2 linked regions of the Homo sapiens genome follow. The protein of the gene in region 1 interacts with the protein of each later gene in a pairwise test. Each region holds a gene or a part of one and is shown on either strand. Other genes may lie near its edges.

Region 1 (7,071 bases):
GTGTTTTCAAATCAGAGACTGAAGGGGCAGAGGTGACAGGTCTAGGCTGGGATGAGGTCAGACGTCAAGGGTCCCACCTGCTCATGTGTAACAGGGATAAGCCTCTGCTTGGACAGCTCCCTCAGTGTGGCCAGGTCAGTCCGCATGTCCAGTTTACAGCCAACCAGCACAACCTTGGCATTGGGGCAGAACTCTTGAGTCTCTCCTTGCCACTATGTAGGAGAAGAAAAGAGAATTGTGGAGGGGTGGAGGGAGGCACAGCGTGAGCCTTTGTGCCATGCCAGCAGTGTGCCCTCTCTTCCTCAAGCACGCAGAAACCATGTATCCCTCAGGACTCTCCCACATGAGGAAGGAGGTGAGAATGCTAGGCTTGGTTTGAGAGCAGGATGGGGTGAGAGAGAAGCAGCGGGGAGGAGAGGGCTGGCGTGGGCCTGTGGACTCTTCTCCCTCAGTGGCTATGAAGGGTCTGCCAGCCTGGAAACTTCCCATTCCCACTCGCCTTTCCCATACTCTCTCCTGGGAACAAATTTATCCCACCCTCCCCTCCCCCACCTGGGAACTGGGGCTGCCCTAGCTGACTTCTGTCCATTCACCCCTGGCTTTTGTCATGGAAACTGGGGCCTGGAGAGGAGGCCACAGGGCTTTCCTGAGCTCCAGGATCAGGCTTCCCATCCCATCCCCTCCATCTGGGACTCCCACTGCCAAGGAGTTGGAAGAGCAGAGAAGGAATCCTGTGAGTGCTTCTCCCTTCACTCCCCCACCTCCCCTAGCTGCTGTATCCAGCTCTGAGGACTTTCAGGAAAGGGGTGGCTGGGAGGGATGGGGGCTGGAGGCAGGGGTGGCAGGGATGAGAGCTTCACTCGCTAACCAGCTGATGGCCATACCCCAGCCATCACTCCCTCCTCCTGGCCCATGTTATGTCAGGACCATGGTGGTCTGGTCCCCCTCAGTCTAGCTGCCCTATTTCCCCAGGCTCCCACCTTCTTGAGAACACTGTCCAGTGTTTCTGGTCGGCTAATGTCGAAGCAGATGAGCACAGCATCAGAATCAGGATAGGCCAGAGGCCGGACATTATCATAGTAAGAGGAACCTGAAGGAAGACAGGGCATGAGGGGCCTGAGTGGATGGGAGGCCTGGAAGGGAATGGGAGACCTTACAGATCCTGGTCAAGGGATGCTGGGAGCAGAGAATGGAAAAGAGCAACCATTAATACCCATCATTAATACCCATCATGGAGTCTGGGTTTCCCAAGTGGGGGAGCGGGCAGAAGGGAGGTCACATGGTGGGAAACGGCTCTCTGCTTCCCTAGTGGTTTAAAAAGTAATAATTTTTATTCTTGACTGAGGTTTGGACCCCTTTGAGAAGCTCATAAAATCTATAGACATTCTCATAAAATGTTGCATGTGCTTTCTGGGCTTTGGCAGTCTAAAGCCCTGAAGGGAACTCTTGTAAAAATAAAAACCCTCCTTATGTTGGGAGGAGGAAAAGAGCAGTGGCAGGGAGAGCACTCTCCCATTCTCCTGGGACTTGACCTCAGATTTATCTAGTTCAATGGAGAGAAACAGCCTCCTGACCACCCCTCACTCAAGACATTCTAAATGTCTTTTCTGCTTTTTTATTTTTTGAGATGGAGTCTCGCTCTATCGCTCAGGCTGGAGTGCAGCGGCATGATCTCGGCTCACTGCAGCCTCCGCCTCCCAGGTTCCAGCGATTCTCTTGCCTCAGCCTCCTGGTAGCTGAGATTACAGGCACGTGCCACACGCCCGATTAATTTTTGTATTTTTAGTAGAGACGGAGTTTCAACCATGTTGGCCAGGCTGGTCTCAAACTCCTGACCTCAGGTGATCCCCCCACCCCAGCCTCCCAAAGTGCTAGGATTACAGGCGTGAGCCACCGTGCCTGGCCTCTAAATGTCTTTTCTAAACCCAGTCTTATCTCTGAAGGAACATGTTCCAAATTAAAAGCCATTCCTTCCCAACTTTCCCAGGTAGGCAGGACCCAGCTGAGGGGCTCAGATCCTAGGCTTTCTCCTTCAGGACATGGTTTCTGTCAGGCTCTGCAAGTTCTACCTCAGTTTCCCTGGATTTTAGCAGAATATTGATTTTTCCCTTCCTGTTGGAATTGGATGGATGGGCTGGGCTTACCTGGAACCTAAGGGTCTAACCAAGGGAGGGGACAGAGTGGGCCGCCTTGGAAGTCAGGGTGACCCCCAGGGACTTGGCTACCTGAAGTGTCCCACATGTTGAGCTCAATGCGGCGCTTGTCGATCTCAAAGCTCGCAGTGTAGTTCTCAAACACGGTGGGGACATAACTCTGCAGACACGGATGGATCCAGATGAGATCATCTCTCCAAGTCCTCACCCCAGATAAATGCCCTCCTCACTCCCACACCCCGTCCAGCCCAGCCCCTGGACACAAGTTGGTCTGGGATTGGGCAAAGGGGAGATCCCGGGAGCTCCTGCCCCCCCCCCCCCCCCCCCGGAGAATCTCTGCTAAGCTCCCAGACCTCCTCCTGTTCCCTTCTGGTCCCTTCAGCCCCCTAGTTCTTCCCCTCTCCATTGCCCAGGACCTCCGACATTCCCCTCGCCCTCCCTCCCGGATGCTCTGGTTCTCCCAAACCCCATCTATCTCACCCTGCTCCCTAATTCCTCCCACCCCAATCCTCTGCAGTCCTTCCTGAGCCCTCAAGGCCTCCCCGCGTCCTCCGACCCCCTGTCTCTTGTCCCTGGTTACCCGAGTACCCATTCCCATCCGTCGCCAGGGCCCCTGTCACCCACCCCCCAGCAGCCTTAGCGTCCCCCTCCCAAGACGCAGGTCCCTCACCCCGGGATAGGCGTCCTTGGCGAACACCTGCAGCAGCGCCGTCTTGCCGCACTCTGCGTCTCCCACCACCACGATCTTGCAGCGGCCGCTCTGCCCCTCCATGGTCCCGGCTACGCGCCGGTCCCCCACGCCACCCCTCTCCCGGGCCCCGCCGCCGCCTCCCCCGCCCCTGCAACTGCAGCCGCTCGGGCCGCCAACACCGGCATCTCGCGGGCCCGCGCCGAGCCCCCGCCCCGGGTCCGCGGCCCCCCCTCCGCCCCGCCCCCAGCCAGGCGGCCGCGCCCCCCCGGCCCCTCCTCCCACCCCCGCAGCCGGGGGGCGGGGCCCAGAAGATCTGGGCGGAGCCCTGGGAACAGAGGCCTCAGAGCCGGGGTCCAGCCCGCCGGTGTGGTCTGAGGGGCCCCTGCCGGTTTGGGACAGGCCGAACTGGGCTTATTTGACTTTCTCGGATATAAGGGCAGGTCAGAGTTCAAGCGAAGTTCTTAGGGGTAGAATATGAGCGGCACAAGCGCGAAGCTCGGGCCTGCTGTGTACCCACGCGTGCACGCAGGTGTACCAGTGCGGACAAGAGCTGGGGCAGCCATCCACTTCCTGAACACGGCGGGAGAGAGATGCTAAGGGGAAGGAGGGAGCCTCTTTGGTTTTCTCTCCCGCGTCCGCCTATGTCCTGGCAGGGGGTCTTGGGGAAATGGGAGGGTGAACCCCAGCACACCCACCCGGACGGTGGTGACATCATAGCTTTCCGTCCCCATGGCAACGGGCAGCCGGGTCTCCGGTTACATTGACTTAACCGCCGGCCTAGACTAGCAGAGAAGCGTGGACTGAGTTCCTCCAGCCAAGCACTGGGTGGAAAGTTTTGGGGGAGCTGCGTCCTCTGGTGGATGCTTGGGGACAAGGAGATAAGGAAGAGAAAGAACCAACCGCCAGAGTTGCTCTGCTGGAGCCAGAGCTAAACCCAAAAGTCAGGCTTGATTAAGAGTCTGACAATAGGCCGGGCGCGGTGGCTCACGCCTGTAATACCAGCACTTTGGGAGGCCGAGGCGGGCGGATCAAGAGGTCAGGAGATCGAGACTATCATCCTGGCTAACACGGTGAAACCCGCACGGTGGGCGCCTGTAATCCCAGCTACTCAGGAGGCTGAGGCAGGAGAATGGCGTGAACCCGGGAGGCGGAGCTTGCAGTGAGCCGAGATTGCCTCACTGCACTCCAGCTTGTGCAATAGAGTTTCGAAAAAAAAAAAGTGCTTTTTTATATCGAGGCAATTCGAGTCAATAATATATGCTGCAAATAATTCTGTAAAGATAACTAGAAGCTGGGCGCGGTGGCTCACGCCTGTAAACTCAGCACTTTGGGAGGCCAAGGCTTGCTTGCGTGCAGGAGTTTGAGGCCATCCTGGGCAACATTAGCGAGACCCTCTCTCTAGAAAAAAAAATCAAAACTTAGCTAGGTTTGGCCACTCTAGGCACGCTGCCTATGGGGTAGCCCTGCTCTGCAAAGAGCAGTAAAACATAAAGTTAGCCGGGCGTGGTGACACATGCCTGTGGTCCCAGCTATTCAGGAGGCTGAGGTGGGAGGATTGCTTGAAGCCGGGAGTTTGAGGCTGTAGGGAGCTGTGATCGCCCCACCTCGCTCAGCCTGGGTGACAGAGTGAGACCCTGTATCAAAAAAATAAAAATATAAATATAACTAGAGCACGCAGCATCATCACTATGTTACAGAAGGGAAAATGAGGAACAGAACGTTAACACCAAAGTCAGAAAGTTTTAAAGGCTTGGTCTCCATGCTTCTACTTTGCCACTGCAAGACCACAGTGAATTAAGTCTCATCCCTGCCTGGGTTAGATGTCAGAGCCTGAGACACAATGTAGTTGGACTCCAGTCCACAGGTGGCTGACTCCAAATCTGATATGAGTTAACTCCAAATCTGATGTAAGTTCAAGTTTTGGGACTGTTCCTTAACTTTTTTTTTTTTTTTTTGAGACGGAGTCTCGCTCTGTAGCCCAGGCTGGAGTGCAGTGGCGCGATCTCGACTCACTGCAAGCTCTGCCTCCTGGGTTCATGCCATTCTCCTGCCTCAGCCTCCCAGGTAGCTGGGACTACAGGCGCCTGCCACCACGCCTGGCTAATTTTTTGTATTTTTTAGTAGAGACGGGGTTTCACCGTGTTAGCCAGGTGAATCTCCTGACCTCGTAATCTGCCCGCCTCGGCCTCCCAAAGTGCTGGGATTACAGGCGTGAGACACCGCGCCCGGCCTTTTTTTTTTTCGAGATGGAGTCTCCCTCTGTAGCCCAGGCTGGAGTGCAGCGGCATGATCTTGGCTAACTGCAACCTCCGCCTCCTGGGTTCAAGCAATTCTCCAGCCTCCGCCTCCCTAGTAGCTGGGACTATAGGCACCTGCCACCATGCCTGGCTAATTTTTGTAGTTTTAGTAGAGCTGGGGTTTCACCATACTGGTCAGGCTGGTCTCGAATTCCTGACCTCAGGTGATCCACCCACCCGCCTCGGCCTCCCAAAGTGTTGGGATTACAGGCGTGAGCCACGCCGCCCGGCCCTTTTTTTTTTTTTTTTTAACAGGGTCTCACTCTGTTGCCCAGACTGGAGTGTAGTGGCGCGATCTCGGCTCACCTCCGCCTCCCAGGCTCAAGCGATTCCTCTGCCTCAGCCTCCCAAGTAGCTGAGATTACAGGCGCGCGCCACTACCGCCCGGCTAACTTTTTTATTTTTAGTAAAGACGGGGGTTTCACCATGTTGGCCAGGCTGGTCTTGAACTCCTGACCTCAAATGATCCACCAGCCTCGGCCTCCCAAAGTGCTGGGATTACAGGCGTGAGCCACCGCGCCAGGCCTATCCCTTAAAATAGTTTTTAATTTGAATAAGGTTTACTATGAATAAATAAATCACAGTCGGCTTGATCCCAAGAGCACAGACGTTCCTGGTGCCCCTTTTCGTGCTCTCCCAGCTTGCGCCACTATGGCCCTGGCCCTTTAAGGCTGAGCGCGAGGCCCCGCCTCGCCCGGCGCCCCGCCCCTCCCGCTGGATCCCGCAGCCGCGGCTCTTCCCGACGCGTTCCGCCTTCCCCAGCTGTGCACTCTCCATCCAGCTGTGCGCTCTCGTCGGGAGTCCCAGCCATGTCCGACGAGAGAGAGGTAGCCGAGGCAGCGACCGGGGAAGACGCCTCTTCGCCGCCTCCGAAAACCGAGGCAGCGAGCGACCCCCAGCATCCCGCGGCCTCCGAAGGGGCCGCCGCCGCCGCCGCCTCGCCGCCACTGCTGCGCTGCCTAGTGCTCACCGGCTTTGGAGGCTACGACAAGGTGAAGCTGCAGAGCCGGCCGGCAGCGCCCCCGGCCCCTGGGCCCGGCCAGCTGACGCTGCGTCTGCGGGCCTGCGGGCTCAACTTCGCAGACCTCATGGCTAGGCAGGGGCTGTACGACCGTCTCCCGCCTCTGCCTGTCACTCCGGGCATGGAGGGCGCGGGTGTTGTGATCGCAGTGGGCGAGGGAGTCAGCGACCGCAAGGTGAGCGGGTTGCGTAGGGCAGGGCAGGGCTGCGCAGGCCACTGGGCAGTGGGGCACGAGTGGGCGAGCGCCGGGGGTGTGGCAGGGCGGGAGAAACTGGCGCGGACCTGGGTGCACGAGCGTGGAAAGCGTAGCCAAGGAACTTGTGTTTGGGGGCTCCTGGAGAGCGGCATTTATGTGGGGAGGGGAGACGAAATTATCGCCCCTTCCCCAACCATTTTTAGTTGTGGCCGCCGCCCAGAAGCTGTGCTGGTGGGGGGGAAAACAATAAGGTGCCCATGCGCATGCGCACAACCACACTACCGTCCCCACCCCCCCCCCCCCCCCCCATTAAAACCACACCTGTACCCCTACCCACCAAACACTCTCTGGGTAATTGTGGTCTGTGACTATGAGTGACGGTTAGTGCCCCCTTTCCCCGAGGGAGCTTGAGGGGCTATGTCGTCGGGGTTGGGCGGGGGCACAGCGGCCGTGCCAGAGTCCTGGTCACATGCAGCCCCGTGGTCTGTGGGGGTGTGAGGCGGCCCCTCCCAAAGCAAGGCCAAAGAGACGAGACACGCCCATCACGGAGGAGAGAGAGCCTTTGCTACCCCACCGCCACCAGCCTTACACCGCCGATCTGATTTTGGGGTGGGGGAGGCGGGATTGGGTCATCCGATCTTTGTCTTGGGCTCTGTGTCTCCCGTGACTGCAGTATCTCCTCCTCCTGTGACTCAGCCCTCAGCCTTCGGGCC
Region 2 (5,458 bases), on another chromosome or scaffold:
TAGGGTCCCTACCTTGAAGGCATCCCAGTCTAATGAGGGAGACACAGCCAGAGCAAGCAATGACAAAACAAAGACAGTCAACCCGATGTGGGAACAGAGGTGTTACGGAAGCCTCAGTGGAGCACTTGGGGAGAGCTGGCATGGGAACTGGCTCTTGAAGATGATAGGAGTTTATCAGGAAGCCAGAGGGCACAGGAAAGGGCTTTCTGGGCCATGGGCAGAGGGAGGGAGGCACAAGGGTCAGGTGCCATGTAGGGGAAACTGCAAGTCATTTGCAGTGGCTGGAAGGCAAGGAAAGCTTGAGGAAGCATTTAGAGAAGAGGCTAAAAATTATGTCATCCAAAAAATGATTGAAAACATTGTGGTAAATGAGATAAAACTAGGTCCCCCATAGTTGTATATGTAGATATAGTAGGCTGCTCCATTTTGTCATGATAGCCACAAACTTGTAAGAACACGAGAGGCTTTGCAAAATACTTAGCTGAAGCCAGCATCTGAGTAGCATCTGAGTGTCTCCTTTACTCAGTCCTGAGTGAAATGTGGGAGGGGCTGGGTGGAGGTGGTGCTTGAATACCTTGCTGCTGCTCTCTCCCAAAGCCAGAGTTCCTGCCAAGCCATGGCAGATGCCGTCAGGTAAACTGCTCAACAGCTGTTCTCAGTCCCTCCAGCAGCTAGGGCTGGCCCCATGACCCAGGAAATGTAAGGGGAGGGCTCCCAGAGTTTCTGGAATTTTTTCCCAATTGACAAAAGGAGAGTGGCAAACAAGAATGGAGCTCCTGCCCTCCATCCACTTCCCCTGCCTTTGAGTATGGTGCTCAGGAAGCGACATTTGGCTCTGGGGCAGCCATCTGGTGATCATGTGATCAACAGGGCTGCATTCCTCTGGAGGCTCTGGGGAGAGTCCATTTCCTTGCTGTTTTTTAGCCTCTATAGGTCACTGGCATTCCTTGGCTCATGGGCCCCTTCATCTTCAAATCCTGCAATGACAGTTCTGTCCTTCTCAGGTGCCAGCTCTCTGGCTTTCTACAGGTGGGAAAGGTTCTCCACTTCTGGGGACCCATGTGATCAAATTGCGCCCACCTAGATAATCCAGAATAATCTTCCCACGTCAAGGTCCTTAACCTTAATTGCATCTGCAAAATCTCTTTTGCCCTGTCAGGTAAATAATCACAATCTTCCCACGTCAAGGTCCTTAACCTTAATTGCATCTGCAAAATCTCTTTTGCCCTGTCAGGTAAATAATCACAGGATACAGGGTTTAGGATGTGGCCCTACCACAGAAAGAGTCTTTGAGTCCTTGACATTGAGGAGGAAACCAATCCTGTTCTCCACCATCTCTGGACACCTTAAGTAAACCACCGATATTATTATTGATAAAGCTGGTGTTAGCTTTTCTGTTATTTGAAGCCAAAAAGCATTTCTGACACAGGAGCTATTTGCATGATGAACCATAGCCTGCAGGAGAACAAAGCCCAACTGGTTCTCTGGGCCTGTGGGGAGGGAGGATGAGGTTGAAGAGGGAAGGGAGGGGCCTGCTGTAGTGTGAGGGACAAAGACAGGAAGAGAAAAAAGGCATTAGGTATTCCTGTGGTCTGCACATCCTCTCCAGATACTCAAGAAATGCAATTCAACTATTTGGAGATTACTTTTTGATAGCTATGCTTGGTTTCTAAATGCAGCTAGGCCCCTGCACACAGGGCTTGCTGAAAGTGGCCACCTCAGCAGCAGCAGCACAATTGCCCTGTATAAAGATGACCAAGGGAGGGTGAAATCCCCTTTTGGGAGATTGTGGTGTTTGGAAAACAGATTCTTCCCCTCCCTGACACTCCGTTGAGGGAGGAGAGGTTAGATTTTATTCCCTTGGCTGAAACTTCTGAGGGGAACTTTTTGAGACACTCATGGAAGATCAAATTGAGGGTTGAAGACTTGGTAGGGACTAGTGCAGCATGGGATAGTGGTATTCACTGCAGAGAAGTGTCTGCCAGCAGGAGGCTGGCAAGACACTGTCAAATTTCATGAGGGAGCACCAATGCTGTTAGGAGTTGGGTCCTTTGCTGATAGGACCTGCAGGGCATCTACCTTCATGTCTACAAAAAAGTTACTAGTGACCAGGCACAAGGGGACAGTAACCTTACCAGCCTCATTGCTAAGAAGTGGTTAGCACATGTCTTCCCCCCGCTCTTCCTGGCCTCTTCCACCACCAGTCAAGCTGGTGCAGGAGTTGGCAGGGACAGCACATCTTGGAGGCACTATGGAGGTTCAGGGGAGCTTTGAATGAAACCACTGAACTTTAAGATAAGATTGTCTTAATAATGCAAAATGACTTAAAAGTCACAGGATTGCACTGAGCACTTGATAAGCCCACTGCCCAGTGGGTAACTGCATTTGACAAAACAATTGGCACAGTTATGAAAAAAATGTAAGCATTGAGTATTTTTATCTCCATAAATTATACTCTTCAAGCAGGTTACTTAAGCATTATAAAAGAGGCTGAAAACAGGTGGGGAGAGGGCAGGTGGGAAACATGGAAAGCAGAGGGAAGGGGAGCTTGGTGCCCACCTGTGAGGCAAGGTTTTAGGGTCCAATAACAATTTCTGACCTGGTGAGCTGACACTCAGTTGAGATCAATTCTCTTGTACAGGTGAGCTGGTGAGGAGGTGGAAAGGGGCAGTGCTGTGATGGGGAAGGGGCAGAGCATTCCTCTCAACTCTCTTTTGCCCTCCTAGCTTGACCTACTGATGGCTGCACTCTTTTCTAAATAGTAACACATGCTCCAATGCATGCTTGAGTTTGTGCAGTATTCTTGTTTCTGAAAGTCAAGTTGTGACAATTAATGCTGTATCTAACCAAATGATCACAGCCTCCCTCTTCCCCATGGGAACTACAATCAAGAAGCATCTTCCAATTTCATGTACACTAAACCTAGGTGGCCACAAGCTTCATTTGGGCCATGAACTCCTTTGAAACCCTCATAAAAACTGTCCTACTATCTCCCTGGTAAATCGCACATACACAGAGTTTTGCCTTTCAGGACATATGGCCTTATAAGATTTTGACTACTAGTGACCAAAATGTTGATGTTTTTCAAAAATTACACAGAATTGTTAAGATGGAATAGTTTTATTCAGCAAACAAAAAACTTGCTAATTCAGAGTATCCTCTAGTCCACGTAATGTGGTTTAGACTACATTTGCAAAATTAGGGCCTTGACGCTGAACAAAATAAAATCCAGAGGAAGAACTACAGTATCCAATCAAAAAGGAAGTACTAGCAAATGAACCAGAATAAAAGACTTTATTGTATTCCATACATTCACAGGTCACTTCCAGATTTAGTAACAACACTGCAATGCTATGATGCTGTGCGGTCATTTAGCTTAAACCACAGTGTAAGTTGGTAGCTCTCTCCTGCTCTCTTGGCCTCTAGATGTATCACAATACAATTCCTAACTGTGGCCTGGCAACCAATGCTTATTTCATTGGATTATTTTCTGACTGGGACATGAGTTCATCGCATCTTCCCAGAATTTTAAAGTACCTTCCCTTACATTATAAGAGATGACCAAACACTCTAGTGTGAAGGCTGCTTCACACACTGTTCTTATCTATCATGATTGCTCTTCCTTACATACACGTCCCGTACAGATCAGCTACACACGGCATGGTCCTGAAACCACAGCTTTTGTTTCTTTGGCCAGAATGCACCCCTCACCTTGAGTGCCCGCCTTAGAAACACAGGTACTTGGTTCTCACAGGGTGTGCATGGTTGACACAAGTTCATCTGCCCCACGGTAAAAGCTCTTCAAAACCTTTGCATGACTTGTGGGGAGCAGGGTCACAATTTGTTGCATGTGACCTGCCTCAGCCTCAAAAGATAAGAGATCATGAGGCTCCACCGCCCCCGGGCTCAGGAAACTTGATCCACATCGCTAGGGCTCTGCCTGTTAGGTTATGGATGCTCACCTGACTCTCTGAAGCAGAGGGAGGCTGACACAGATTAGCTTTTATTGAAATTATTAAAGTGCAACTTTGTGTTTTCACTCTATCAGGCACTGAAAAGCAAGAAGCTTTTAATTTTTTCTTTTCTATAATGAAATATATTTTCTTTACTCTTATTTGTATCTGTAATACACCTGCAATTAGAAACAGCAGTTAAACATAAAACAAAGAACAGAGCAGAAGGCACAGTCTAAAGAGTGGGTATCAGAAGAATTTTACCATTTACGCTCATAGGAATACTAAACCAAACCCAATCAGACCAAACTCCAAAGCCCATTGTGTTTACAAGTCTGCCTCTTTTGTGTGATAGCAAGTCAGTCCTTTAAAGCAGAAACCCCATTTACTAACCCTACATCCCAAGTAAGCAGGCCTGTATCAGAACCAAACAGCTGTCCTCTTACATCAGAAAATCTAAGTGATCTGAAAGACAATTCATCACAAGTGTTTCCAATTTTCTTCTGAGAACATCACCAATCCCACTAATGCAAACTCAGAACATTACTTCAGTCAAATTTCGCTAAATGCTATAGCTTTCTTCAAATAAAAATTAGCCAGAAAAATACCTTAGAAAAGATTTTTTTTTTCATTGTGGATTCCAGGAGACTTTTAAGACATGGAATTCTCGGTGATTATATTCAAATGGCAGAGCCACATTTGCTAACAGTATTTTCTAATTTTATCTTTCTTATAAGAAAAAAAGGGTAAAAATCGGATCTGAAATACTGACAGGGTTCCCCAAAGTTAGATATTAACACAGCTTTTCATTTCTCTTATGAGAACTTTACTGTAAATATACCTTTATCATAGAAATGAGATATCCAATACACATTACAAAATGTCATATTTAAAGATGACAAATCTATTCTTAACCCAGATTCTTCATCCACAGAAGTTTAATGACTAAAATAACACAACAGAATGAACAAATGTTTTATTGGCATGTTCATTGTTGTAAACAGCATCTGGCATGAAAAAGTTTTACCAAAACCTTTTTTATTGATTTTTATAAATTAGATGGTATGTCAAAATTTATGTAGAATTGTGTTCATTGAGTACTTTTATTTAGCAAAGCAAAAACTTGCTGATACTAATAAACTCTGCAATGAAATCATGTTGACTGCATCAGTCTGTACCATGACCTGACCTCATTAGCAAGTTTATTCAGAACAATGTTAAGACGTTTCCCAAAAGTTAAACTACATGTAACTACAAATTGACTCTAAAAATTAAAACTGGACTTACAAGCATTCTAGAAGATTCAAACTTGAAGTAAATCTTCAAAACTAGATGTACAAAGAGAAAAAAATTGAAGCCGCTGAACAGAGAAACCTCATTAACAAGGGCAACGACAATCCTATGGGACCTAGCACTGAGGAACCTCACTGAGGATTACATTTACATAGATTGCTATACTTCTCAATGTACACAAATGTACAGAATGAATGATACGTGAAAAGAAT

Evidence for each region.
Region 2: the proteins of RND2 (region 1) and USP47 interact in binary tests that used the Homo sapiens proteins (3 or more experiments, as listed by UniProt).

The regions. Positions count from the first base shown.
Region 1 is NC_000017.11:43,021,202-43,028,272, reverse strand, and holds the start of RND2 (rho-related GTP-binding protein RhoN), read right to left. Parts: upstream 3,043-7,071; 5' UTR 2,926-3,042; coding exon 2,824-2,925; intron 2,772-2,823; exon of another isoform or gene 2,752-2,771; coding exon of another isoform or gene 2,734-2,751; intron 2,314-2,733; coding exon 2,226-2,313; intron 1,091-2,225; coding exon 981-1,090; intron 213-980; coding exon 78-212; intron 1-77. Other genes in the region: VAT1 (synaptic vesicle membrane protein VAT-1 homolog), read left to right, coding at 5,951-6,337.
Region 2 is NC_000011.10:11,956,972-11,962,429, reverse strand, and holds the end of USP47 (ubiquitin carboxyl-terminal hydrolase 47), read right to left. Parts: 3' UTR 543-5,458; downstream 1-542. UniProt on the Homo sapiens protein: Ubiquitin-specific protease that specifically deubiquitinates monoubiquitinated DNA polymerase beta (POLB), stabilizing POLB thereby playing a role in base-excision repair (BER). Acts as a regulator of cell growth and genome integrity.